Homo sapiens: one gene and its partners. The protein of the gene in region 3 interacts with the protein of the main gene of each other region in a pairwise test. Each region holds a gene or a part of one and is shown on either strand. Other genes may lie near its edges. The genes, in order: MT1H, RABL6, SPINK7 and MT1G.

Region 1 (6,502 bases), on a different chromosome or scaffold from region 3:
TGAGACAGAGTCTCATTCTGTTGCATAGCCTGGAGTGCAGTGGCACAATCTTGGCTGACTGCAGCCTCTATATCCTGGACTTAAGCAATCTTCCCATCTCAGCCTCCAGAGTAGCTCAGACAGACACAGGCCACCAGAGCCATATAATTTTTGTATTTTTTGTAGAGACGGGGTTTCTCCATGTTGCCCGGGCTGGTCTCAAACTCCTGGGCTCAAACAGTCTCCCTACTTCTGCCTCCCAAAGTGCAGGTATTACAGGCATGAGCCACTATGCCCGGCCCACACTCTCATTTAATCCCTGCATTGAGATATAATCTCCTTTCTACAAATGAGGCACTAGATGCTCAGAGAGTGTGGGTGACTTGCCCAAACCACACAGCCAGTAAGTGGTGGAGTGGGCTGTGAAATAAGACTCCCTGACACCTAAAACTATGCCCTAGGGGCAGGCTGCCTTCTGAAATCATTTCACAAGGAAGCAACAGGTAAGTGTGGTCCTGACTTCTACACAAGGAGATTCATCTTCCTCTTTGACTGAACATCAAATAGCATTCCCTCCACAAGTGGAGGGACTAACTTGTCATTAACAAGACATCCAGGGACTCTTTCTTTCCTAAGGAACATCACCACACTCAGCCAGCTGCACAATCTGCCATAGCTGTGTTCTGAGAACTTCTGTAAACAAAGTAATATTAATTATGGAGATGATGAAATCACAATCAAAATTCCAAACTAAGTTCATCTGCAACCCACGATCACACTACATCTTGGCGGGAATATGCTGGTTTGAAGTAGTCAAGGGCTGGAGTTTGAAAGAGGAACAAATGAAGCCTGACCTTGGGAGGAACTTCCAAAGATTCTGAGCCAACTCCCAACAGGGAGCTCTCAGGATTCAGCGAGTGTCCTGAGTGTGCTGTCTGTCTGTGACGCCGGCTAGGCCAAGCCTGATGGTTCCTCATGAGAATGTCCTGGCCTGTGCTGCTGAAGGTGTGGTCCACAGTGGGGTCAGTCTGCTGTTTCCAGTCTCCAATGCAACTCATCCATGAACATATGTGCAGAGTTTGTAAACCTTCCATTTTTCTGTTATTTCTGTATGTATTTATTGATTTTTTTGTGTAAAATGTAAAACATGGGTTCTGTATTTTGTGTTTCATTATCTTCATAGTTAATATTACTTTATTTACAAAGGTTTAGGTCTGGGATGGATAGAAAATGAAAACTGTCCCTTCACCGTGGAGTTTGAGAAGCCCCGTGGAGGATTCAAGTAATTTAGGCATTGGAATCCACCTCCTGTGGTCACTTTCAAGCCTAAAATCCGCGGAGGATCTGAACTTGGGCAGGGAAACCTGAGAATAAACATGAGGAATGGAGAAGTCTCTGTACCACGTTTAATGAGTGGAGCTGATCGCGTATGTCCCCATCCCCATATCATCCAGCACAGTGCAGGTGCCTTTTACAGAAGATGGAGGTCAGTGATGTAACGGGGCTTGCCTGAAGGCGCTCAGACTGTTCAGCACTCACATTTCCATCCAGAGCCCAGTCTAAACTCCCAGTTCAATCTCCCACCCCAGTCCCTCATTCCAAAAACACAACAGGAACCAGAACGGGAATCAAGTCTAAGTGTTTAATTATTATTCACATATTTCACAGAAAAAAAGGAATGTAGCAAAGGGGTCAAGATTGTAGCAAAAAACAAAAAATCCTGGATTTTACGGGTCACTCTATTTGTACTTGGGAGCAGGGCTGTCCCGACATCAGGCGCAGCAGCTGCACTTCTCCGATGCCCCTTTGCAGATGCAGCCCTGGGCACACTTGGCACAGCCCACAGGGCAGCAGGAGCAGCAGCCTGGGGAGGAAAGGAGATTGAGAGGTCAGAGCAGACTCGATCAGAGAACTCCCTGCCCCAACAGAGGCCTGTCTCCATCCCTCCAGCCCCAGAGGACCCTTAGTTCATGATGGCATGGTTTTTGTCAGGAGACAACTGGTGGACATTGGAATGGGTCTTCCTTTGAGAAAGCTGCCCCACCTCACATAAGCCCTGGAAAGTGCAGAAGACTAGACAGGCAGTGACAACCTACAGGGACAAAGGAAGGCCGGTTCCCCAGAAGCACGCACTCAGGGACAGCCTTGGGTTCCCTCCCAACCTTAGCCACAGCCCCAGATTCCTGGAGATGGCCCCGCACTCACTCTTCTTGCAGGAGGTGCATTTGCACTCTTTGCACTTGCAGGAGCTGGCGCAGGTGCAGGAGACACCTGCTAGAAGAGAAAAAGCCAGTGAACGGTGAGTGAGATGCAGAAGGTACAGCAGTGGGTCAATGAGTGTCCACTTCCCCCTTCTCTGTGCAGAGCCAGCCCTCAGAGCTCCTTTCCCACTCAGAGCAGAGGAAGAGAAGCCCCATGTCCTCTCCATTCATGCTGGGAAAACCAAGCACCCTCCTATTTCTACTCCAAAGGAAAGTCCCAGGCTGCAGACATGGCCCAGGAAGACTTCGACTTTCTGTCCTGAACCTGGAAGAGGCAATGTCCCCTCCTATCCAATGTCTCCTATCCAATCCGGTAGCTCAGAGTCAGGTTAGAGAATTGGGGCTCAGCCAGCAGCCCTGTGACCAACCAGGTGACGTGGAGCAGGACAGCCTTGAGCCTCAGGACCCTCAACTCTGACATAGAGGAACAGGGAGGAGGAAAATGCCCTCAGGAGCTTGGCCAACAGGAAAGCACTGGACCAATAAAGGAGTCCCCTTTACCTCTGATAGCAAAATACGACCTCCTCAAACCCAGGGACACTCTCTATGGTGTCTGGGAATTTGGCATCCCAAGGCACAGAACCCGGGCGTCCCTTACCAGCGGCACAGGAGCAGTTGGGGTCCATTGCAACCCGAGGCGAGACTAGAGTTCCCAAGCGAGAAGGGAAGAGGCAGTGGGTGCACGTGGAAGGCGGAGTGGAGCCCAACAGCCAGCGGCTGTTTTTATAGTCAGGAGACGGGGCCGGGCGCAGACGCCCCGCCCCGCCCTTGCACCCAGCCCGCTGAGTCCGCACCGCCCGCGGTCCCGGCCTGGGCTGTGCGCAGGAGATGGGCCAAGTGCAAGGTCCCTTGAGCGCAGCTGGGCGCACACCGCAGGACGGCCCCTTTCGCACCGGCTCGCGAGGGAGGCGCTGTGCCCCCCGTGTGCGGCTTCTCTCACCCTGCCAGGCCTTCCCAGCTTCCCTGAGGTTGCCTGCTACACCCGCCCCTTGGCGTTCCGCCTACCCCAGTATTCTGGCTTTCCCCTCACCTTCACCAACGCCCAGGTCTCTAGTCAATAGCTAAGCCTTTCCTGGAGTCGAGGGCAACCCCAGTCTTGTGCTCCACTTTCTGGATCTGCCAAAGCGGGGAGCATAGCAAGGGAGTAGTGTGCAAAGGGCAGGCCAAGGGTGCGAACTTCGCATCTCTGGCAGTATCCGCCCTGTCCCCGTTCCCACCTCAGTCCTTTGGTCACGCTTCTCCTGTGCTCAGTAACACGGAAGAAACAGTGATCTGCCTCTCTCTTCTATTCTCCACTCTTGAGGAGCTGAATGGGCCCATTTGTCCAGGTCCTCCTTTGCATAAATCTCTCCAGGGTCTCCCCACAGCCTAGCCGGGTACCCCACTACAGGATGGCAGTTTGGAAAGTGTGGCAAGTCCCTAGAAGAGGGATCATTGAAGGTGATATGAAGATCCTGCATTAAATTAGAAAGCAAGAGCGCTGGTTATTTTTCCTTCCATATTCCTATTACTCTATGTTACACGGGTCTGTGTTTGGCCCTGTTTAATCACTTTCTGTCTTTGAACCCTCACAGCAACCCTAAAGGGACATGAGTCCTTTTCACGAACCCGTATTCCTAATCTGGACAATGACGAGGAGTTCAAGCCACTAGCCCAGGGTCAGGGAGCTGGGAAGTGGCACTGCTTGGTGTGAATCCTGTCAGCTTCCCTAGGTAGAGAGGTCAGTGATGAAGCTTCTCTATGGCCTAGGTATGTTTATCTCTTCACTGCTTGAAATCTTTCAACAAAACCAAGCATTACAGTCAGTCCTGGAAGCAAAACAGAGACATAGAGGGATATGAATAAGTATACTTTGATGGGAGGGAGGCAGGGTCCTGTGTCTTCCGTGTTGCTGTGCACAGGAGAAACGTGGCCGAAGAACTGAGGTGGGGACGGGGACAGGAACAGGCAATGCCAGAGATCTGAAGGTCGCATCCTCGGCATGTCCCTTGCACACTACTCCCTCGCTGTGCTCTCTGCTCCCACCAATCCAGACAATTGAACAAGAGACTGGGGTTGCACTGGGACTCCAGGAAAGCCTTAGCTGTTGACAGGGGGTGGGCAGGCCCCGGGGTGTGGGGCGCAGGTCAGGATCTCGGGGCACGCGGAACGCCAAAGGGCGGGAGTAGCAGGTAATCTCAGGGAACTGGGCAGGCCCGGCAGGGTGAAACAAGCAGCTCACCCGGGTGCACAGCCCCTCCCGCGGGAGCCGCTGCGAAAGGGCCGTCCCCGCGGTGTGCACCGACCTGCGCTCAGGGTACTTTGCGCCCGACCCGTCTGCTGCGCACAGCCCAGCCCAGGACCGCGGGCGGCTCGGACTCAGTGGGTCGGGTGCAAGGGTGGGGCAGGGTCTCTGCACCCGGCTCCCTCCCCTGACTAGAAAAGGAGCTGCCAACTGTTGCGCTCCACCACGCCCTCCACGTGTTCCACTGCCTCTTCTCTTCTCGCTTGGGAACTCCAGTCTCACCTCGGCTTGCAATGGACCCCAACTGCTCCTGCGAGGCTGGTAAGGAACGCCCGGGTTCTGTGCCTTAGGATGCCAAATTCCCAGACACCATAGAGAGTGTCCCTGGGTTTGAGGAGGTCATATTTTGCGATCTGAGCTGAAGAGGACTTCTTTACTTCCTCCGCTGCTTTCCTCTTGGCCAAGCTCCTGAGAGCATGTCCCTCTTCCCTGTGCCTCTATGTCAGAGTTGAGGGTCCTAAGGCTCAAGGCTGTCCTGCTCCACATCACCCCGTTGGTCACGAGGCTGCTGGCTGAGCCCCAATTCTCTAACCAGGCTCTGAGCAGCCGGATTGGATGGGAGGCATTGGATAGGTGGGGACATTGCCTCTTCAGGGTTCAGCACAGAAAGTCGAAGTCGCAGTCTTCCCGGGCTGTGCCTGGAGCCTGGGACTTACCTTTGGAATACAAACGGAGGGTGCTTGGTTTTCCCAGCATGAATGGAGAGGAGATGGGTCTTCTCTTCTTCTGCTGAGTGGGAAAGGAGCTCTGACGGCTGGCCCTGAACAGAGAAGGGGGAAGTGGACACTCATTGACCCACTGCTGTAACTTCTGCATCTCACTCACAACACACTGGCTTTTTCTATTCCTTGCAGGTGGCTCCTGCGCCTGCGCCGGCTCCTGCAAGTGCAAAAAGTGCAAATGCACCTCCTGCAAGAAGAGTGAGTGCGGGGCCATCTCCAGGAATCTGGGGCTGTGGCTAAGGTTGGGAGGGAACCCAAGGCTGGCCCTGAGTGCCTGCTTCCTTTGTCCCCCTAGGCCGTCACTGCCTTTCCAGTCTTCTGCTCTGTCCAGGGCTCCTGTGGGGCTGGGCAGTCTCTCATAGGAAGACTCACCCCAATATCCACCAGTCGTCTCCTGAAAAAGCTGTGCCATCCTGAACTAAGGATCCTCTGGGGCTGGAGTCTGAGCTTGAGCCAGGCCTGCTGTTGGGAGAGGGAGCTCCCTGGTCAAGTCTGCTGTGACTTCTCTCTCCCTTTTTCCCCAGGCTGCTGCTCCTGTTGCCCCCTGGGCTGTGCCAAGTGTGCCCAGGGCTGCATCTGCAAAGGGGCGTCAGAGAAGTGCAGCTGCTGTGCCTGATGTCGGGACAGCCCTGCTGTCAGATGAAAACAGAATGACACGTAAAATCCAGGATTTTTTTTTTCTACAACTCCGACTCATTTGCTACATTCCTTTTTTTCTGTGAAATATGTGAATAATAATTAAACACTTAGACTTGATTCCCGTTCTGGTTCCTGTTGTGTTTTTTGGAATGAGGGACTGGGGTGGGAGATTGAACTGGGAGTTTAAAGACTGGGCTCTGGATGGAAATGTGAGTGCTGAACAGTCTGAGCGCCTTCAGGTGAGCCCCATTACATCACTGACCTCCATCTTCTGTAAAAGGCACCTGCACTGTCCTGGCTCATATGGGGATGGGGACATACGCGATCAGCTCCACTCATATTAAATGTGGTACAGAGACTTCTCCATTCCTCATGTTTATTCTCAGGTTTCCCTGCCCAAGTTCAGTTCCTCAGCAGATTTTAGGCTTGAAATTGGCCACAGGAGGTGGATTCCAATGCCTAAATTACTTGAATCCTCCATGGGGCTTCTCAAACTCCACGGTGAAGGGACAGTTTTCATTTTCTATCCATCCCAGACCTAAACCTTTGTAAATAAAGTAATATTAATTATGAAGATAATGAAGCACAAAATATAGAACCCATGTTTTACATTTTAC
Region 2 (7,795 bases), on a different chromosome or scaffold from region 3:
CCCTCTTGGATCTTCGGATGGGGTCAAGGTGAGCTCAGGGCCCAGGGCTGGGGGCCCCCCAGGGCCAGCCCTCTTGGATCTTCGGATGGGGTCAAGGTGAGCTCAGGGCCCAGGGCTGGGGCCCCCCAGGGCGGGCTCTCTTGTGTCTTCTGGCCAGGGTCTCTCAGGAGACCCCCATGCCCACACTGCCTACAATCCCCAGAAGGATCCAGTGGCCAGCCCGGCCAGCCTGCTCTGCTCACCCACTGGACAGAGCAGGTCCCATCCAGCACAGGAGCCATGAAGTAGAGGAGAGGGAGAGAACTGGCCGGGCCAGGGCGGGGGTCACCTATTCACCCAGTCTGTGCCAAGGTCCCTGCAAGGCTCTGGGGATACAGCAGGGACCGGGACAGGCAGACCCTGTCCTCCTGAAGTGGGTGGCACTCATCCAGTAGTCCATGAAGAAATGCCACACAGCCCCTGAGCCAGCTCAGCAGAGACAGGTGGGGTGGCAGATGGCTTTCCAGGAAGACAGTGCTTGAGCTGGGCTGAGGGATTGAACCCGCAAAGGTCAGGTGTGGCCAGGGCTAGGGAGGAGGAGGTACAACTTGGGAAAAGGCCCTGGGCTGGGAGGGGTGTGATACATGGAGCAGCGTGTGGCCAGGGCAGTGGAGGCTGCAGAGGCACAGGCCCCAGGAGTCCACGGAGGCGGCTGGGCTGGGGGCCCAAGGACTGACCTGGAGCCCTGGGAGGAGGTGGAGGAAAGATGTGACCAGGTCTGTGCTTCAGAAAGGGTGTACTCAGGCTGCAGGGACTGGAAGGTGCCAGGGCAGAAGCGCTGATCACCTGGGTATACCCGGGGTGGAGAAGGGGTGGCCAGGAGCAACGGAGCTGAGAACTCCTCAAGAGGCAACCCCACTAAGCGCTGGCAACGAGAGTGGCGAGGGTGAGAGCAGTGTCTGGGGTGCGTGAGCAGGGGTTAGCAGATGACGGTTTTAGCTGCCCAAGGGCACGCTGGAAGAGGCCAGGTTTTGGGGAAGAGGATGAATCTGTCTTCAGGCAGGCTGAATGCACTTCCGTGAGTTCTAGGTGGACCTGGCCAGGAGGCAGCTGGGGGCCAGCGGCTGGAGGGCAGCAGAGCGTCTGGGCTGGCACATGCTCTGAGGCATGGGCAAGGAGGGCCGTGAGCTGAGGGGCCACGGGCACAAGTGGTTTAGGAAAAGGGTGTGGCCATTGGCCGGGGATGCAGTTCCAAAGTCTAGTAAGGTGAGCATGGCCAACCGCCCGCTGGCTTTACTGCCATTAGGGGCCTTGTTGAGACAGCTCCCCAACCCTGTGCCCACCCGCATGTCCCCAGAGGAACATGAGGCAAAGGGAGGCGTCCTTCATCGAGGAGCGCCGGGCAAGGGAGAACCGGCTCAACCAGCAGAAGAAGCTGATCGACAAGATCCACACGAAGGAGACCAGCGAGAAGTACCGCCGGGTAAGCCCCAGGCCAGGGCCTGGCTGGCTGCCCATCCCCATGACAGCTGGGTGGACACAGGCTCAGGGCCACCACTCAGGGCCCACTCCCTGCCAAGGATGTCTCATCCCTTCCCCGCCCCCACCTCCCATCAGGGCCAGATGGACTTGGACTTCCCCTCGAACCTGATGAGCACGGAGACCCTGAAATGTAAGCGCTCAGCTCCCCACCTGCCCCCAGCCAGGGTCCCAAGGAGAGGCTGGCACTGATTCAGGCCAACGGATCAAGTCACCCTGAGGCCAGGTGTGACATGTGGTCGCCAGGGTGAAGGGAAGGACAGGTCCCTGCCTCTCCCTCCAGAGGCTGAGAGCCTGTAGCCAAATGTGGCCTCAGAGATGCTGGCCCCAGCACCCAAGGGCCCTGCACCAAGGGCCCAGTCCCCAGTGACTCTGCAGAGGATGAGCATCCTGACCCCTAAGCTGCCTCTGAGAAGCACCACCGGGCCCACAGTGCTCACAGTGCTGCGCCACTCACTCCGGGTCCACCTCTGCTCTGGGGCTGCCTGGGGCGTCCCTGCAGGGCTGGGCTGAGGAGGGAGCAGGTTGGGGCGGGGGCAGGCATCTCTGAAGGATGCCTGTGTCTTGGGTGGCCGCCCCAGCAGCTGGGCAGGTACAGAGGTGTCTGACAGCCTTACACAGAGCCCCTGAGCCATCCCTGCATGCTGACTGCCCCTCCCCTCTGCTCTGCCAGTGAGGAGAAAAGAGACCTCCACAGCAGAAATGGAATACCAGTCGGGCGTGACTGCTGTGGTGGAGAAGGTCAAGAGTGCTGTACGGTGCTCTCACGTCTGGGTAATGCCCCTGGCGCTCCCAGAGAATGGCAGGAGGGTGGCTGAGCCTCTCACGTCTGGGTAATGCTCCCTGGCACTCCCGGAGCATGGCAGGAGGGTGGCTGAGCTGGGCTGGGGTCTGAGGCACTCTGAAATGGACACACAAAGTGGCAACTCCCTCGGCCGCCCCAAATCCTTTTATCTTAATCCCATCTGTGTATCTGCGTTTATTATTATTAGGCCTTGAGCTCCTAACCACTGCCCTGACACAAGCTTGTCCACTGTCAGACAAGTGACTCAAGTGACACAACGTCCTTCAGTGATGATCTCCTTATCTCTACATGGGGTTATCTACCCTCTCTGCCTGCCATTAGGGTCGTGTGCAATGACATCCACAAAGCGCTTCACCCCTGCTAAGTGTGGTGGTGCACACCTGTGGTCCCAGCTACTCAGGAAGCTGAGGTGGGAGGATCGCTTGAGTCTGGGAGGTTGAGGCTGCAGTGAGCTGTGATCACACTTGTGAATGAGCACAGAGAAAGTGCACTAGCGTCTAGGAGGGGCCCAGAAGAAACCAGTTCTGTGAAGCCCCCTCTGCCCACCATCCTGGCCCACACCTGCTTCTCTCTCCCCCGGACTGGCCAGGACATCACTAGCCGCTTCCTGGCCCAGAGGAACACGGAGGAGAACCTGGAGCTGCAGATGGAGGACTGTGAGGAGTGGCGGGTGCAGCTGAAGGCCCTGGTGAAGCAGCTGGAGCTGGAGGAGGCCGTGCTCAAGTTCCGCCAGAAGCCTAGCTCCATCAGGTGCCCCGGGCTTCCGGGGCTGCGGGCCACCCACCCCAGTCTCACAAAGGCCCCGGGCTGCAGCCAGGCTGGGAGCTGGGAGTATACCCACTGCCAACAAGCCTGTGTGTCCCACAGAGGGGCCAGGGGACTCCACTTGCACACACCTGAGCTTCTGAGTCCCTGATTCTGGCACAGCACCCAACTCAGGACTGGGCTCCTGGGTGGCCCACCATGGCTCTCGGGCCTGTGCCCCTCACTGCTGTGTCCCTATTGCCTTCTGCAGCTTCAAGTCCGTTGAGAAGAAAATGACAGACATGCTAAAAGAGGAAGAAGAGAGGCTCCAGCTGGCGCACAGCAACATGACCAAGGGCCAGGAGCTGCTGCTGACCATCCAGATGGGCATCGACAACCTCTATGTCCGGCTGATGGGCATTAACTTGCCTGCGACCCAGGTACCGGGAGTGAGGCTGAGCTGCCACACACCAGGTCCCTGGGCAGGGCCAGAGGGGAGATGAGACCCTCCTCCCGGCCTACAGAGAGAAGTGGTGCTCTCCAACACCCTCGATTTGAACAGCAAGCTGGCGTACTGCGAGGGGAAGCTCACGTACCTGGCTGACAGAGTGCAGATGGTGTCCAGGACCGAGGAGGTAGCCCCGGGCTGGGAGGAACCTGCACAGCCCACGTCCCCTCAAAGCTGACAGGCTCCCGTTCAGAGTGTCTGCACGGCTGAAGGGGGCTTTGCCCTGCAGGGCGACACAAAGGTGAGGGACACCCTGGAGTCCTCGACTCTGATGGAGAAGTACAACACCAGGATCAGCTTTGAGAACCGGGAGGAGGATATGATCGGTACAGGCCCCGGAACTGGGGCCCGGGCTGCAGGCGGGTGGCTGGAACACAGGTCGGGGTGGCGCCGGCTCCCATCCCACCGGGACATCCTGGAGGGACAGCGGGGCTACAGGGTGCATCAGTTGTACCTGCAGGACTTTAATTGATGGAGGTGACTTAGTGATGCCATGGGGAGGCTAAAGCCACTGAAATACCTTGTTAATTTCTCCGAAAGGAGGAGGCATGCCATGCCAGACGGGCCCGGAGGAGAGGCACCAGGGCTGGAGCAGGGAGGAGCGCGGTGAAGGCCTGGGCCGGAGCTTCCACTGGGGGTTCTGCGGGAAAGGCTAGGCAGGGCAGCGTGAGCCGCTGCGAATGGGCTGGGCTGAGTCCTCCCGGCACGCTGGGGCTGTCCCTGGGGCAAGGCACCTGGCCCGGGTCGGTGGAGGGCGGGGGCGAGAGGCGGGTCGGGCGGCTGCGCCTAGCTGGGCTAGCCCCGTGTGCGAGCCGCCGCCTCCGCCCGCAGACACCTTCCAGTTCCCCGACATGGACCACAGCTACGTCCCTTCGCGCGCCGAGATCAAGAGGCAGGCGCAGCGGCTAATCGAGGGGAAGCTCAAGGCGGCCAAGAAAAAGAAGAAGTAGCCCCGCCGCCCCGCTCCCTGCTTTGCTACACAAATAAACATTTTTCCAGGACTGCTGCGGACGCTGGGGCGACCGGGGTCTCGGAGAGGAGCACGGGACACGCAGGATCGGGGGAGGTTCTGCGTAAGGAGGCAGCCCGGGCCCGGAACTGCGCGCCAGAACCGCGTGCGCATGCGCCGACCGCGCGCGCCGCGCCCCCGCGGCCCTCGCGGCGCCCCGTAGCCGCGCACCCCTCCCGTCCCGCCGAGCCGGCGCCAAGATGGCGGCGCTGACTCCTGGAGAGCGGTCGCGCCGGAGGCCGCGGGGGCCGGAGCGGAGCAGCCGCGGCTGAGGTTCCCGAGTCGCCGCTCGGGGCTGCGCTCCGCCGCCGGGACCCCGGCCTCTGGCCGCGCCGGCTCCGGCCTCCGGGGGGGCCGGGGCCGCCGGGACATGGTGCCAGTCGCACCCCTTCCCCGCCGCCGCTGAGCTCGCCGGCCGCGCCCGGGCTGGGACGTCCGAGCGGGAAGATGTTTTCCGCCCTGAAGAAGCTGGTGGGGTCGGACCAGGCCCCGGGCCGGGACAAGAACATCCCCGCCGGGCTGCAGTCCATGAACCAGGCGTTGCAGAGGCGCTTCGCCAAGGGGGTGCAGTACAACAGTGAGTGCGGCGGGCCGGGGGGGCGCGGGAGCGCCGCGCGGGTCTCCGAACCCAGGCCCCGGGCGCCGCGCGGTGGTGGGTGTCGGTCTCACCTGCTTGCCGGTTGTGGGGTGCGCTGGGCCCGCCGGGCGCTCCGGGAGCGGGGGCGCGGGCCAGGGGACGCGAGGAGAGGCCAGGCCAGGGCCGGGTCCTCGCGGCCCCCGAGCCGCGGGTCGTTTCCCAGCCGCACTCGCCTGCCGCGTGTCGCTCCCGCCGCGCTGTGCAGTGGAGCGGGTCGGCGGCGGCGGGGTTGGCCCGGCTGCCCGGCCCGGGGGTGATTACATAATGCCAAGCAGGGCCCGCCGGCCCGGGGCGCCGCGCCCCCGACGCTCCACGGTGCCCAGCCCCGGGCACCACTCACCTGCAGGAGGTGCGGGGAACCCAGCCGGCCTTGGCGCTTTCAGCGGGATTTTTCTTTGTTGACTTCCTACTGAGTTTGAAGACAGAATATTAGCTACGCCACACATTCTCGCCTTTTTTTTTAAAAGAAGCGTTTGTAAGAGACGTATCTAGAAAAGCTCCAGAAGGCACGGGCTGACTTGCGACTGTAGGAGACATCCCATTTCTCGTAGGAAGGAGGAGTCATTTACGGACTCCTGAGTGCCTGGGACGCTCCATTCCTTTGTTATAAATTGTGTAAATTGTCCTCGACCTCTTATGAGTTTTTCCATCTTGCGGGCTCTTTCCCAGTAGTTTTTGAAAGCTTTTATGTGGTTCCCTGTTTTGACATTGCTTCCCTCTTAGCCATTTCCGTATGTTTCTATGAGGTTTTAGGACGCTACGCCTATCCAGTTTTTTGGTCACTTTAAGGGGAGCCTTAGAGCCTCCGTGATATTTCCATGGTAATGTAGAATTTTAAGAACTAATGATCAGAAAGACTCTTGTGCAGGTTTAAAAGCAAGTTCATGAATTCGCGTGCCGTGTGCACGGAGAGAGGCCGTAGTTCCTGGGGCTGGAGCTAGTCCAGGAGGACAGTGAAGATGTCGCCTTCCTTAGTCCCCCGGCCTGTGAGCAAGAGGAAGCTGCAGACCACTCGGGCCACCCTCACCCAGACACCTTTAGCAGTAAGCAAGATAAAACAACTTCTTAAAGATAAGTCTGAGCATCTAGGTATGAAAGTTGGTGTCCGGGCCGGGCACGGTGGCTCATGCCTGTAATCCCAGCACTTTGGGAGGCCAAGGCGGGCAGATCACGAGGTCAGGAATTCGAGACCAGCCTGGCCAACATAGTGAAACACCGTCTCTACTAAAAATACGAAAAAAAAATTTAAAAGAAAGTTGATGTCCGAACCAAGGGCCGTATTGGCTTTTCTTATACTCTAGAACATACGACGACAAAGAAGATTTTGATGAAGTTCAAATTAGAGTCAGCGTGCTCATCAGAAAGAAAGCGCAGCCAACACGTTTAGGAACAGAAACGGATTATGTTGAAGACAAACAATCCATTGCGTTTGTGTTCAGTAACCCAAGCATCAAAGGAACTTGTGGCTGGGGAGAAGGCTTGACTATTTGAAATCTCAGGACTCCTCTGTCCAGGAGCTCCCAGACTCCCGTGGAGTGGAAGCCTGGGGGCTCGCTGAAGAAGTCACGTGACTGGAACGTGCTTAATGCTTGGCTGTCTGGTAAGGAAAATAAAGTGGTGCATTTTGAATAAAAATAAAAGCTGATTTTAAATGTGTTATAATTGAAACTTTATACATAGCTGGCATTCGGAGAAGAGAATATTGAGTCAAAATAACTGAGTTTACGCCAGTTTTTAGACTCTGCGTTTGGATCCTTTATTTAATTTTATTGCTTACAGTATTGGCTAAGCTCAGTATTAGTCCCTGGGAAATCAGGCCTGGACCTGGAAACTGTTCACCTTCTGAAAAGGCTCCCCGAGGGTCCTGGGCAAGGTCCACCTCATGCACCAGGACCACCCCTGTGTGGTCCTGGGCGAGTGTGACTAAAAAGGGCAATGGGGTCCTTCCAGAGGAGAAAAGCCAGTCTCCAGTACTTGGAGAACAGGTTATGATCTCCTAGAACTGAATGAAAGGTGGTGAGACAGAGAGAAATTTGAATTTGTACCTAAATTACATTTTAGAAAGATGTTATCTTTATAGCTGAATAACATGCAATTTTAAAACTTTTGAGTTTCTGTGTTAGAATAGAAAGTTTCTAGTATTTCTTTTCTTTTCTTTTCTTTTTTGAGACAGAGTTTTGCGTTTTGCTGTGTCTCCCAGGCTGGAGTGCAGTGGCGTGATCTCAGCTCACTGCAAGCTCCTCCTCCCGGGTTCACACCATTCTCCTGCTTCAGCCTCCCGAGTAGCTGGGACTATAGGCACCGGCCACCACGCCCGGCTAATTTTTTGTATTTTTAGTAGAGGCAGGATTTCACCGTGTTAGCCAGGATGGTCTCAATCTCCTGACCTCGTGATCTGCCCGCCTCAGCCTCTCAAAGTGCTGGGATTACAGGCGTAAGCCACCATGCCCGGCTTTCTGGTATTTATTTTCTCAAATATTTTACAGAGCGTAACAGACCAGCAATGTGATCAAGACAGAGTCGAGGGTTTTGGGGGTGAGAGTTTCTGGGAACTGCTGCGGGTTTCCAGGAGTC
Region 3 (7,607 bases):
TGCTGCCTCCTCTGATTCCAGAGCCCCACTGACCACCCAGTGTCTTAACACAACAAAGAAAGAGTACTCTGACAAAATTGAGAGGGCCTGTCTCTCAGCTTTTCCTGGTCAGCAAGTCCTTTGACGAAGCTGGATCCTGCATTAGTGAGGAGGACTTTCATCATGTTTCTCTCCAGTGTCCCTTGAAAACAGCTAGTTTCCTGGCCAAGGGCTAGTTTCCCAGTCTGCCTATGTTACAGAATTTTCCCTTTTGTGAAATAAAACCTCCCAAATAGGAATAAATACATAGACATGTCCTTTTGGGCTAAGGGCTTGTTGTTCTCACTTGTTAAGATAATCACAAAGATGAAAACGCAAGATCTAAGTGTCCAAAATCCAGTGGCCTAAAAGAGTTAACGATGATCACAGCAGACTTGCTATGAGACAGTTAAGTGTAATTTGCATGTCTTGTACCAAAGAAGTGACATCTGCCTAGCTACATTTCTGCAAAAACATTTTGTGGGCCAAAGAAAATACCTAAACAAAACATGTCCGTGGTATTCTGGTCCAAATACTGACAGCTTGCATCCCTTATTTTAGATAAAGGAAAAGTAATCATTTTTGTAGCCTTATTCCCCCCTTAAAGCTACAGATACTTAGAGCCTCTAGAAATTCGAAGATAAAGAACCTCTAGGGACACTTTGTCTAAGAATCAAGCTGCAGTGAGGATGTTAATTATCTTAGAATCTAAGTCAGGTAGTGTAGTAGTTTTCAATTATTTTATGGGGGGTGGGGATTCAGGGCCCTTTCTTCAAGCATGATATTGTATGGCACTCCACTACTTAAAATAGTCAAAGCTGAACTTTATGTTGTCAACTACCCCAAATAGTCCCTTTAACCCTAATGGTGACTCCTGACTTGCCTCTATAGAACCTCTGTGCTCTGGGGACAGCAGTTTGAGAATCCACAGCCTTACTGGATTCTCACAATTGACAGACAGGAACTGGAGGTTCTGTGATGGGATGGGACTAGTCCAAGCTGGCAGAGCAGGTGACTCTACCCTGTCTGATTGTGCAACAGTCAGTTTTCTATCCCCACCTGCTGTTCTGGGTGGGAATAATTATAAATTACAGCTTATAGAGATTTAAGCTGGATCCTGGAAAGTAGAAGCGTTTGTAGTAGAGAGCACTGACTCCAGATCTCATTTTCTTCTTATGAGGTACTCACAAGCTCTCGGTACACAAGTGACATTCATTCCCATAGGTGATGTAGTCAGAACCACAAACTGGTAGGTATGTGATGGGGCAGGGGATGGCCACCACTGGATACTTCTTGTAAATGCTGCAGTCCACCTGTGTCATATACAAGCAAATGTCCTGTTTTTCTCCCAGACCCCAAGCTAGGCCACTATTAGATATACTACAAGGGCTGGAAGTCCCAGCTCAGATATTCAGATGTTGCTTGGCCACTTCTTTAAGTACTAGTGTTATCACTATGACAAATACTAGCACTACTGGTATTCTATTTTTTTCTGCTACACTCAGTTAACAATTGCTGGGCATTTCTGGGCTAGGCGTTAAACTTAAATCTTGCATGAATTTTCTTGTTTAATCTTCAGAACAACTAGAGTAAATTCTACTATTACCTCTCTTTACAAATGTGAAAATTAAAGCTTAGAAATAGAGATAACTTGTTGAAGATAAATGCTGGTAAGTAGTAGAGTTAGGATTTGAATCTAGAGCCTGTGCAATTTATCAGGGTACTTTTGCTCTGCCTTTTACACGTTATGCCTTTTATGAAAACATCACCAACTTCTCAGCTGGAAGGCGGTTCTCCCTTCTTTAACTCTGGCATTTTTAAAAAACATTTTTAAAATATGGTTGTTTATATGTATGTCATATTTGTTTAGTTGCCTTCTGGAGAACAGGTACCATTTCTCCATGTGTGTTTGCCTCCCTCTCGAATCCCCCTAAACATAATTTATCCTACATATATGTTGACTAAATGACAGTCAATAGTTATTGACATTAAAATGTTATTCAACATACTTACTTTTTTTGGAGACAGACTAGCAGCTTCTGAAAAAGAGATACAGATGAAGATGTTAAAAGTAAAGCAAACTTTAAATCTCATTAATTAATATAAGTTTCATCCTATATAATTACTCTACATTTCCTTTAGCAATGAGATTCAGCACACTCTCCATCCTTATGCAAAATCCTAGTTGTTTGCTGAGGAAGTTGAATGGCCAATGGGTTAGGTTAACCCTTGGTTTAGGTAAGAGAATTATAAAAATTTCCTCTATTTATTGATCATGGAATGTTTTCTGAACCTCATAGTGTTTTTGATAATGGCCAAAGTCAAGTAGCAATAAGAAGTATTAAAATCATCACTCCTAAGAGCCTGAAGGATCATCTCTGATATCCTTTCCTTCCCAATTGACATAAAGAAATGCAATTGAATGTCTTTATGTGGTTGGAAACACTTTAATTAATTTTTCACAGTATAAAAGTCTAATTGTTGACCCTTGGCTTTTTGAGACTTGTGTTTTATTTTAATCCCCCCAAACTGATTTGGGAAGACATCCAAGTTTTTCTGTATCTTTGCACTAAGAAATGGTATATCTAATAACACTGACAACTTCCAGTGTCCATATGAACATAGAAATGGAAGACTTACAGAGAAATTAGATCATTTTTTGTTCTATGGATGCAAATAAGAATCCTTGAAAGTGAAGACATTGGACTCAAGTCTCTCAAACTCCAGATGGAACATAAGATCCTATTACAAACCAGTACACTTTAAATTCTTACAACCAGATGTTTCTGAGATGCTCACATCGCAGGAGGGATTATTTATGAAAACAATCTTAATGGCTATATAGGGCACTGTCTGACCTTAACTTACCTGAGCTGCTACAGAAATAGACCACTGTACAGAGCAGAAGGAGACCCCCAGTGATCTTCATGCTGGAAATGGCTGTGGTGTAGAAGCTGCTCTGAGATTGTCACTACAGCTGCATCGACCATATCCCAGGTAAGGGGTCATGTTTATATATATGCAAGGCTTGGTTTCTCCGCCTTTCCTGTGAGGTCATCCAGAGGATCTCAAAGCACGGTGCCACACCCTGGGCTGTGTTACAGTCCTTGTTACTGAACTGCCACTTCTTATCTGACCAATGATTTGATTATTTGAGGTAAGAAGTATTTTCTATCTTCCCCAAAGGTGGGACTGTTAAGAATTCTAAACTTCATGAACTAGAAGAGACTAAGTATGAGCTTCTTGACTTAGTTATGAAATAAGTGAAAATCTCAAACCTCCTTTATTTTACGAAACTGGAATCTATTAAACCCCGATTAGACTGATTACACCTACGTTTATATCTTGGCACCTGGGGAAATATTGTTTATTTTTGAGGCAATGAACCAATGAAGCAAACTGGGACCTAATGGAAGGAACACTGACATTAGCATTTATGAGGTATGGAGAAAAGCACTAACATAATACTTCTGATATTTTCTACCTGTATAATCTTGGATAAGTCGTTATATGCTGTGAGCCTTTATCAATCCAAAAGGCTTGGTTATGTCGTGATAACATGTAACCACAAGATTTCTGTGAATTAAAACAAAACTTTGTTTCTTACTCAAGCTACACTTGTATGGTAGTCAGCTGTTCATGCTACATTGCCTTCACTGTGGATGCCAAGTGGGCAGAGTCATCACTATTTGGAACACTGTAGTCAAGGTGAAGTGAAGTTGAGTTCGTTCTCAAGGAGTTCTCATTTTAGCAATTAAAACTTCCAGCCCAGAGCAATACTGCTGTCACTTCCCCTCATGGTCTCGTGGCCATCACATGCTTTGTTATGTATGGAGTGAGTGCAATCAATCTGATGTGGTTTAGCTGTGTCTCCACCCAAATCCCATCTTGAATTGTAGCTCCCATAATTCCCATATGTTGTGGGAGGGACCTGGTGGGAGATAATTGAATCATGGAGGCAGTTTCCCCCATACTGTTCTCATGGAAGTGAATAAGTCTCACAAGATCTGATGGTTTTATAAGGGGTTTCCCCTTGCACTTGGCTCTCATTCTCTCTTGCCTGCTGCCATGTAAGACATGCCATTCACTTTCTGCCATGATTGTGAGGCCTCTTCAGCCATGTGGAACTGTGAGCCCATTAAACTTCTTTTTCTTTATAAATTACCCAATCTTGGGTATGTCTTTATCAGCAGCTTGAAAACAGATTAATACACAGTCTTACCTTGTCCTGACCTGTTCCCTGACCTGAAGGTTGGATGAAGAACTAGAATAGTTGGCAAACAACAGAGACCATCCCAGAGACTGAGTTTCATCCCAGTCCAATAGGGCCTGTTGTTAGCCACAATAGAGTTCACATAATTGGAATCATATACATAAAAGTCTGCTCTAAAGCACAGTGCATTTAATAATATTATTGTGATTGTTATTATTATTTACAAACCAAGAGTTAATGCTATGAGTTGCTGACATTAGATTGTAAACTGTATTGTCCATGCACAACTGTCCAAATAGCTGCAGTTTGCTTATTGAGTTTAAGGACATATGTATGAAGACCTGGGGGAAGGCAGTAGACTGTCCCACTAGTTTACTGCTTGGCAGGTTTATTTTAGTACATTCTAAAACTAGCATCTACAAGACATATTAAGTGACTAATAAATGATATTGCATAATCTCTAATATTTTACTCCTATATCTGTTTGGGAGGCAATGTAATCTAGTAGTTAAGAGCATGGGCATTGAGTAGATCCCATTTAGAATCTTTCTTCTAAAAAATGTTGACTGTGTGTCTTTTAGTATTTAGGTTAACATCTGATACTTTAGTGTCTTCATCCTTATGACAGAAATAATATTTACCTCATAGGTTGTTTTGAGTGTTAAATTAGATTTTACAGACACACACTCTCTCACACACACACATTATACATTCAACTCTTGAACAACATGGCGTCCGGGGTGCTGACACCACCACAGTTGAAAAATTAACATACAATTTTTTTATTTTTCAATAATTTAACTATTAATATCCTTAATATCCTACTGTTGACCTTATTAATAACATAAACAGTTAATCTACACGTTTTGTATGTTACATGTATTATACACTGTATTCCTACAACAAAGTAAGCTAGAAAAAAGAAAATGTTATTAAGAAAATTGTAAGGAAGATAAAATATATTTACATTAATTAAGTGGAAATGGATCATCATAAAAGTTTTCATCTTTGTTGTCCTCATCTTGAGTAGACTAAGGAGAAGAAGAAAGAGGAAAAGTTGATTTTACTGTCTCAGGAGTGGCAGAGGTAGAAGAAAATCTATGTATAAGTCAACATGTGCAGTTCAGACCAATTTTATTCAAGGGTCAACTGTGCATATAATCTCTTATGGATGCATGTCTGTGAGGTGTCTGTGTGGTATGCTTGTGTGGTTTGTATGTATTTGTGTATTAGGGCACCAAGCTCATAATTAGATCTTGATATATGGTAGCTAATAATATGGAATGTGCTCTTTATAACAACTCATTAAGGAAGGAGTTTTTGTTACCCTAGTTTTGCCAGTGAGTAAGTTAAGACTCAGAGGATTTAAGTAATCTCCCAAGGATCATGATACAATTAATGGAGGAAACTGCTGAGTTCAGTCAAGGAAAAGAAGCAAAGTGAAGGTTCCAATAAGGAGAGGTAATTGTAGGTTTCATTGTTTGCCATGAATGTTTGAAAAGAATGAATCCTAAGAAAAAGCCATTGTGTTTCAAGATGAGGTATCTTTATTGCAGTTTGAAAATGTGCTTTTATCAAAGAGGAGTGGGAATAGGGTCAAAGGGTGGTCAAAATGGTGGTAAAAGATAGGATCACAGATTTTTTTTTAAATTTTTGATAGTCAAAGGAGGAATGGAAGAAGCTGAGGCTACAGAAAGATCTAGGATAGACTGAGCATGTCTTAAAACCAAAGAGAAGAAGAAATTTTACATACATGGTAGAGAGTGGCTAATTAGATGCATGTAGAAAGATAGAAAATAAGGTTAAGAGCACAGATGAAAAACCATTTTCTCTGACACATGAGAGAGAGAAGAGTGGATAAATGTAGAGACAGGCATATTTTGAAGGGTAAGGAAGGAGAGATGGGGGAAGCCCACTGTAAGGTAGGCTCTAGTTGTTCAGTGCTGGTTTGCTTTTTTGCACTGGGAGAACTGGGTTCGTTTGGGAGCTTGAGACAGATGATAGAAGACTTGGCAGCATGTCAGATAGTCAGCAATGGATCTAAAGATTAATGGCCACTGGACAAGTTAGAACTAGATTTTAGAAGGCCCAATTAGTACTATTCCTCGTATTTCTCCCAAAGTTTGTGCGACACAGAGTGAGAAATGGGGAACAGTGATTTTATAGATAGGGAATGGATACATCAGAGGCTTGAAGATACCATAAAGACTGCATTAGGAGGTGGCAAAGCTTGAAAGAGAGTTAAATGTTCCAGAAGTTTCTGATGGGCTACACAAGGTACAGGCATTTAAGTGTTTAGAGATCAAGGTTTAGGCAAAATGTGGTAGGTATAGGAAATAAGAACAATTGTTTATTGAGACAGGGCTAGGAATCAAGTTGTCGGATACTATTTCTCAGGGGTGGGGCTGAGATAATGATCCTCAGGGTGTATCCAGTGGGTGGAGATAAACGTCTCTCGATTGAAAAGGATGAGGAAAGGTGAGGTCAAGGGATCAGGAGAGGGGTTGGTTTGGGTTTTGGAAGCCATTTACATAGAGAGGAAATTTTCCAGCCAGATACTGAGGCACAAATTATGGAGGAGGCTTTTAAAATGAGAGTCAAAGCCTGTGAAGATAAAAGCAGTCCATTTCAGGATAGTTTTTTCATTTATCCTTATAGTTCTCCAAGGAGAAAATCTTGAGGCCTTGTAAGAGAGAATAACTATGGTCCTGGTTTCATCATGAAGAAGGCAGAATAAAATTAGCTCTTTTCCCATTTAGAAAAAAAAAGTGCAGCTTGCTGCCGGCATTCATTTATTTTTACATAAACATGCTCTTTGAGGCTGAAGTAAATCTAATTTTCAATGTGAAAATAAAATACAAAAACTGTTCTTGGAGTTATTTCTAAACAGAACTTATCTCTAATCCTAATGTAACAGAAATGTAAATGATGATCAGTATTTAGTAGTTTTTTTTTAATTTGGTAAATTTCAAAGCACAGAACAACACAAAGCAGAACATCATATTATACACAAAAATATTCCGTTTCTCTCCAGATCTTGCTATGCTTGTCATTGTGTAAGCAGCAAACTTGCAGTGACCAGTTGGATTCCACCCCCCTGATGTTGGTGGTGTGCTCTTGGGGAGATGTCTTCCAGACAGGCAAAGAAGAGTGACATCATCAGAGCATGGACGACCTCAAAGATATTCCAGCTATGGTCTGTGATATTTTTCCAGCATTCTTTCAATCGATGTCAGTCTGAAGTTTACATGGCTAATTGTGTGCTCAGGATTGTCCTTCTTGAACAGGATGTAGGAGTCCAGCACTGTAATTTTTAGAAGGTAGTGAAATAATTTCTTATACCAAACATTTGATCTCAGTTGGTTAAGAAGTGAGC
Region 4 (6,429 bases), on a different chromosome or scaffold from region 3:
TCCTCCCTTCTCAGCCTCCAGAGCAGCTAGGACCACAGGTGCATGGCATCACATCGTCTAATTTTTGTAATTTTTGTAGAGATGGGGTTTCTCCGTGTTGCCCAGGCTAGTCTCAAACTCCTAGGCTCAAACAACCTTCCCACCTCTGCCTCCCAAAGTGCAGGTATTACAGGCATGAGCCACTGTGCCTGGCCCACTCTCTCATTTAATCCCTGCATTGAGATATAATCTCCTTTCTACAAATGAGGCACTAGATGCTCAGAGAGTGTGGGTGACTTGCCCAAACCACACAGCCAGTAAGTGGTGGAGTGGGCTGTGAACTAGGACTGCCTGACAACTAAAACTACACCCTAGGCGCTGGCTGCCTTCTGAAATTGCTTCACAGGGAAGCAGCAGGTAAGCGTGGTCCTGACTTCTACACAAGGAGATTCATCTTCCTCTTTGACTGAACATCAAATAGCATTCCCTCCAGAAATGGAGGGACTAACTTGTCATTAACAAGACATCCAGGGACTCTTTCCTTCCTAAGGAACATCACCACACTCAGCCAGCTGCACAATCTGCCATAGCTGTATTCTGAGAACTTGTGTAAATAAAGTATTAGTAATTATGGAAATGATGAAATCACAATCAAAATTCCAAAATAACTTCATCTGCAACCCACGATCACATTGCCTCTTGCCAGGAGCATGCTGGTTTGAAGTAGTCAAGGGCTGGAGCTTGAAAGAGGAACAAATGAAGCCTGACCTTGGGAGGAACTTCCAAAGATTCTGAGCCAACTCCCAACAGGGAGCTCTCAGGGTTCAGCGAGTGTCCTGAGTGTGCTGTCTTGTGTGTGATGCTGGCTAGGCCAAGCCTGATGGTTCCTCATGAGAATGTCCTGGCCTGTGCTGCTGAAGGTGTGTGGTCCACAGTGGGGTCAGTCTGCTGTTTCCAGTCTCCAATGCAACTCATCCATGAACATATGTGCAGAGTTTGTAAATCTTCCATTTTTCTGTTATTTCTGTATGTATTTATTGATTTTTTTGTGTAAAATGTAAAACATGGGTTCTATATTTTGTGCTTCATTATCTTCATAATTAATATTACTTTATTTACAAAGGTTTAGGTCTGGGATGGATAGAAAATGAAAACTGTCCCTTCACCGTGGAGTTTGAGAAGCCCCATGGAGGATTCAAGTAATTTAGGCATTGGAATCCACCTCCTGTGGCCAATTTCAAGCCTAAAATCTGCTGAGGAACTGAACTTGGGCAGGGAAACCTGAGAATAAACATGAGGAATGGAGAAGTCTCTGTACCACATTTAATATGAGTGGAGCTGATCGCGTATGTCCCCATCCCCATATGAGCCAGGACAGTGCAGGTGCCTTTTACAGAAGATGGAGGTCAGTGATGTAATGGGGCTCACCTGAAGGCGCTCAGACTGTTCAGCACTCACATTTCCATCCAGAGCCCAGTCTTTAAACTCCCAGTTCAATCTCCCACCCCAGTCCCTCATTCCAAAAAACACAACAGGAACCAGAACGGGAATCAAGTCTAAGTGTTTAATTATTATTCACATATTTCACAGAAAAAAAGGAATGTAGCAAATGAGTCGGAGTTGTAGAAAAAAAAAATCCTGGATTTTACGTGTCATTCTGTTTTCATCTGACAGCAGGGCTGTCCCGACATCAGGCACAGCAGCTGCACTTCTCTGACGCCCCTTTGCAGATGCAGCCCTGGGCACACTTGGCACAGCCCAGGGGGCAACAGGAGCAGCAGCCTGGGGAAAAAGGGAGAGAGAAGTCACAGCAGACTTGACCAGGGAGCTCCCTCTCCCAACAGCAGGCCTGGCTCAAGCTCAGACTCCAGCCCCAGAGGATCCTTAGTTCAGGATGGCACAGCTTTTTCAGGAGACGACTGGTGGATATTGGGGTGAGTCTTCCTATGAGAGACTGCCCAGCCCCACAGGAGCCCTGGACAGAGCAGAAGACTGGAAAGGCAGTGACGGCCTAGGGGGACAAAGGAAGCAGGCACTCAGGGCCAGCCTTGGGTTCCCTCCCAACCTTAGCCACAGCCCCAGATTCCTGGAGATGGCCCCGCACTCACTCTTCTTGCAGGAGGTGCATTTGCACTTTTTGCACTTGCAGGAGCCGGCGCAGGCGCAGGAGCCACCTGCAAGGAATAGAAAAAGCCAGTGTGTTGTGAGTGAGATGCAGAAGTTACAGCAGTGGGTCAATGAGTGTCCACTTCCCCCTTCTCTGTTCAGGGCCAGCCGTCAGAGCTCCTTTCCCACTCAGCAGAAGAAGAGAAGACCCATCTCCTCTCCATTCATGCTGGGAAAACCAAGCACCCTCCGTTTGTATTCCAAAGGTAAGTCCCAGGCTCCAGGCACAGCCCGGGAAGACTGCGACTTCGACTTTCTGTGCTGAACCCTGAAGAGGCAATGTCCCCACCTATCCAATGCCTCCCATCCAATCCGGCTGCTCAGAGCCTGGTTAGAGAATTGGGGCTCAGCCAGCAGCCTCGTGACCAACGGGGTGATGTGGAGCAGGACAGCCTTGAGCCTTAGGACCCTCAACTCTGACATAGAGGCACAGGGAAGAGGGACATGCTCTCAGGAGCTTGGCCAAGAGGAAAGCAGCGGAGGAAGTAAAGAAGTCCTCTTCAGCTCAGATCGCAAAATATGACCTCCTCAAACCCAGGGACACTCTCTATGGTGTCTGGGAATTTGGCATCCTAAGGCACAGAACCCGGGCGTTCCTTACCAGCCTCGCAGGAGCAGTTGGGGTCCATTGCAAGCCGAGGTGAGACTGGAGTTCCCAAGCGAGAAGAGAAGAGGCAGTGGAACACGTGGAGGGCGTGGTGGAGCGCAACAGTTGGCAGCTCCTTTTCTAGTCAGGGGAGGGAGCCGGGTGCAGAGACCCTGCCCCACCCTTGCACCCGACCCACTGAGTCCGAGCCGCCCGCGGTCCTGGGCTGGGCTGTGCGCAGCAGACGGGTCGGGCGCAAAGTACCCTGAGCGCAGGTCGGTGCACACCGCGGGGACGGCCCTTTCGCAGCGGCTCCCGCGGGAGGGGCTGTGCACCCGGGTGAGCTGCTTGTTTCACCCTGCCGGGCCTGCCCAGTTCCCTGAGATTACCTGCTACTCCCGCCCTTTGGCGTTCCGCGTGCCCCGAGATCCTGACCTGCGCCCCACACCCCGGGGCCTGCCCACCCCCTGTCAACAGCTAAGGCTTTCCTGGAGTCCCAGTGCAACCCCAGTCTCTTGTTCAATTGTCTGGATTGGTGGGAGCAGAGAGCACAGCGAGGGAGTAGTGTGCAAGGGACATGCCGAGGATGCGACCTTCAGATCTCTGGCATTGCCTGTTCCTGTCCCCGTCCCCACCTCAGTTCTTCGGCCACGTTTCTCCTGTGCACAGCAACACGGAAGACACAGGACCCTGCCTCCCTCCCATCAAAGTATACTTATTCATATCCCTCTATGTCTCTGTTTTGCTTCCAGGACTGACTGTAATGCTTGGTTTTGTTGAAAGATTTCAAGCAGTGAAGAGATAAACATACCTAGGCCATAGAGAAGCTTCATCACTGACCTCTCTACCTAGGGAAGCTGACAGGATTCACACCAAGCAGTGCCACTTCCCAGCTCCCTGACCCTGGGCTAGTGGCTTGAACTCCTCGTCATTGTCCAGATTAGGAATACGGGTTCGTGAAAAGGACTCATGTCCCTTTAGGGTTGCTGTGAGGGTTCAAAGACAGAAAGTGATTAAACAGGGCCAAACACAGACCCGTGTAACATAGAGTAATAGGAATATGGAAGGAAAAATAACCAGCGCTCTTGCTTTCTAATTTAATGCAGGATCTTCATATCACCTTCAATGATCCCTCTTCTAGGGACTTGCCACACTTTCCAAACTGCCATCCTGTAGTGGGGTACCCGGCTAGGCTGTGGGGAGACCCTGGAGAGATTTATGCAAAGGAGGACCTGGACAAATGGGCCCATTCAGCTCCTCAAGAGTGGAGAATAGAAGAGAGAGGCAGATCACTGTTTCTTCCGTGTTACTGAGCACAGGAGAAGCGTGACCAAAGGACTGAGGTGGGAACGGGGACAGGGCGGATACTGCCAGAGATGCGAAGTTCGCACCCTTGGCCTGCCCTTTGCACACTACTCCCTTGCTATGCTCCCCGCTTTGGCAGATCCAGAAAGTGGAGCACAAGACTGGGGTTGCCCTCGACTCCAGGAAAGGCTTAGCTATTGACTAGAGACCTGGGCGTTGGTGAAGGTGAGGGGAAAGCCAGAATACTGGGGTAGGCGGAACGCCAAGGGGCGGGTGTAGCAGGCAACCTCAGGGAAGCTGGGAAGGCCTGGCAGGGTGAGAGAAGCCGCACACGGGGGGCACAGCGCCTCCCTCGCGAGCCGGTGCGAAAGGGGCCGTCCTGCGGTGTGCGCCCAGCTGCGCTCAAGGGACCTTGCACTTGGCCCATCTCCTGCGCACAGCCCAGGCCGGGACCGCGGGCGGTGCGGACTCAGCGGGCTGGGTGCAAGGGCGGGGCGGGGCGTCTGCGCCCGGCCCCGTCTCCTGACTATAAAAACAGCCGCTGGCTGTTGGGCTCCACTCCGCCTTCCACGTGCACCCACTGCCTCTTCCCTTCTCGCTTGGGAACTCTAGTCTCGCCTCGGGTTGCAATGGACCCCAACTGCTCCTGTGCCGCTGGTAAGGGACGCCCGGGTTCTGTGCCTTGGGATGCCAAATTCCCAGACACCATAGAGAGTGTCCCTGGGTTTGAGGAGGTCGTATTTTGCTATCAGAGGTAAAGGGGACTCCTTTATTGGTCCAGTGCTTTCCTGTTGGCCAAGCTCCTGAGGGCATTTTCCTCCTCCCTGTTCCTCTATGTCAGAGTTGAGGGTCCTGAGGCTCAAGGCTGTCCTGCTCCACGTCACCTGGTTGGTCACAGGGCTGCTGGCTGAGCCCCAATTCTCTAACCTGACTCTGAGCTACCGGATTGGATAGGAGACATTGGATAGGAGGGGACATTGCCTCTTCCAGGTTCAGGACAGAAAGTCGAAGTCTTCCTGGGCCATGTCTGCAGCCTGGGACTTTCCTTTGGAGTAGAAATAGGAGGGTGCTTGGTTTTCCCAGCATGAATGGAGAGGACATGGGGCTTCTCTTCCTCTGCTCTGAGTGGGAAAGGAGCTCTGAGGGCTGGCTCTGCACAGAGAAGGGGGAAGTGGACACTCATTGACCCACTGCTGTACCTTCTGCATCTCACTCACCGTTCACTGGCTTTTTCTCTTCTAGCAGGTGTCTCCTGCACCTGCGCCAGCTCCTGCAAGTGCAAAGAGTGCAAATGCACCTCCTGCAAGAAGAGTGAGTGCGGGGCCATCTCCAGGAATCTGGGGCTGTGGCTAAGGTTGGGAGGGAACCCAAGGCTGTCCCTGAGTGCGTGCTTCTGGGGAACCGGCCTTCCTTTGTCCCTGTAGGTTGTCACTGCCTGTCTAGTCTTCTGCACTTTCCAGGGCTTATGTGAGGTGGGGCAGCTTTCTCAAAGGAAGACCCATTCCAATGTCCACCAGTTGTCTCCTGACAAAAACCATGCCATCATGAACTAAGGGTCCTCTGGGGCTGGAGGGATGGAGACAGGCCTCTGTTGGGGCAGGGAGTTCTCTGATCGAGTCTGCTCTGACCTCTCAATCTCCTTTCCTCCCCAGGCTGCTGCTCCTGCTGCCCTGTGGGCTGTGCCAAGTGTGCCCAGGGCTGCATCTGCAAAGGGGCATCGGAGAAGTGCAGCTGCTGCGCCTGATGTCGGGACAGCCCTGCTCCCAAGTACAAATAGAGTGACCCGTAAAATCCAGGATTTTTTGTTTTTTGCTACAATCTTGACCCCTTTGCTACATTCCTTTTTTTCTGTGAAATATGTGAATAATAATTAAACACTTAGACTTGATTCCCGTTCTGGTTCCTGTTGTGTTTTTGGAATGAGGGACTGGGGTGGGAGATTGAACTGGGAGTTTAGACTGGGCTCTGGATGGAAATGTGAGTGCTGAACAGTCTGAGCGCCTTCAGGCAAGCCCCGTTACATCACTGACCTCCATCTTCTGTAAAAGGCACCTGCACTGTGCTGGATGATATGGGGATGGGGACATACGCGATCAGCTCCACTCATTAAACGTGGTACAGAGACTTCTCCATTCCTCATGTTTATTCTCAGGTTTCCCTGCCCAAGTTCAGATCCTCCGCGGATTTTAGGCTTGAAAGTGACCACAGGAGGTGGATTCCAATGCCTAAATTACTTGAATCCTCCACGGGGCTTCTCAAACTCCACGGTGAAGGGACAGTTTTCATTTTCTATCCATCCCAGACCTAAACCTTTGTAAATAAAGTAATATTAACTATGAAGATAATGAAACACAAAATACAGAACCCATGTTTTACATTTTACACAAAAAAAT

Evidence for each region.
Region 1: the proteins of SPINK7 (region 3) and MT1H interact in binary tests that used the Homo sapiens proteins (3 or more experiments, as listed by UniProt).
Region 2: the proteins of SPINK7 (region 3) and RABL6 interact in binary tests that used the Homo sapiens proteins (3 or more experiments, as listed by UniProt).
Region 4: the proteins of SPINK7 (region 3) and MT1G interact in binary tests that used the Homo sapiens proteins (3 or more experiments, as listed by UniProt).

Annotation. Positions count from the first base shown.
Region 1 is NC_000016.10:56,665,128-56,671,629, forward strand, and holds MT1H (metallothionein-1H), read left to right. Parts: upstream 1-4,686; 5' UTR 4,687-4,757; coding exon 4,758-4,785; intron 4,786-5,378; coding exon 5,379-5,444; intron 5,445-5,770; coding exon 5,771-5,862; 3' UTR 5,863-6,002; downstream 6,003-6,502. Other genes in the region: MT1G (metallothionein-1G), read right to left, coding at 1,752-1,843, 2,185-2,253, 2,839-2,866. UniProt on the Homo sapiens protein: Metallothioneins have a high content of cysteine residues that bind various heavy metals; these proteins are transcriptionally regulated by both heavy metals and glucocorticoids.
Region 2 is NC_000009.12:136,803,166-136,810,960, forward strand, and holds the start of RABL6 (rab-like protein 6), read left to right. Parts: upstream 1-4,782; 5' UTR 4,783-5,031; coding exon 5,032-5,161; intron 5,162-5,561; exon of another isoform or gene 5,562-5,683; intron 5,684-7,795. Other genes in the region: CCDC183 (coiled-coil domain-containing protein 183), read left to right, coding at 1,337-1,462, 1,597-1,651, 2,192-2,292, 2,913-3,073, 3,339-3,507, 3,592-3,702, 3,805-3,901, 4,407-4,525. UniProt on the Homo sapiens protein: May enhance cellular proliferation. May reduce growth inhibitory activity of CDKN2A.
Region 3 is NC_000005.10:148,307,824-148,315,430, reverse strand, and holds the start of SPINK7 (serine protease inhibitor Kazal-type 7 precursor), read right to left. Parts: upstream 3,009-7,607; 5' UTR 2,948-3,008; coding exon 2,887-2,947; intron 2,058-2,886; coding exon 2,032-2,057; intron 1,332-2,031; coding exon 1,207-1,331; intron 1-1,206. UniProt on the Homo sapiens protein: Probable serine protease inhibitor.
Region 4 is NC_000016.10:56,666,230-56,672,658, reverse strand, and holds MT1G (metallothionein-1G), read left to right. Parts: upstream 1-4,593; 5' UTR 4,594-4,665; coding exon 4,666-4,693; intron 4,694-5,278; coding exon 5,279-5,347; intron 5,348-5,688; coding exon 5,689-5,780; 3' UTR 5,781-5,929; downstream 5,930-6,429. Other genes in the region: MT1H (metallothionein-1H), read right to left, coding at 1,670-1,761, 2,088-2,153, 2,747-2,774. UniProt on the Homo sapiens protein: Metallothioneins have a high content of cysteine residues that bind various heavy metals; these proteins are transcriptionally regulated by both heavy metals and glucocorticoids.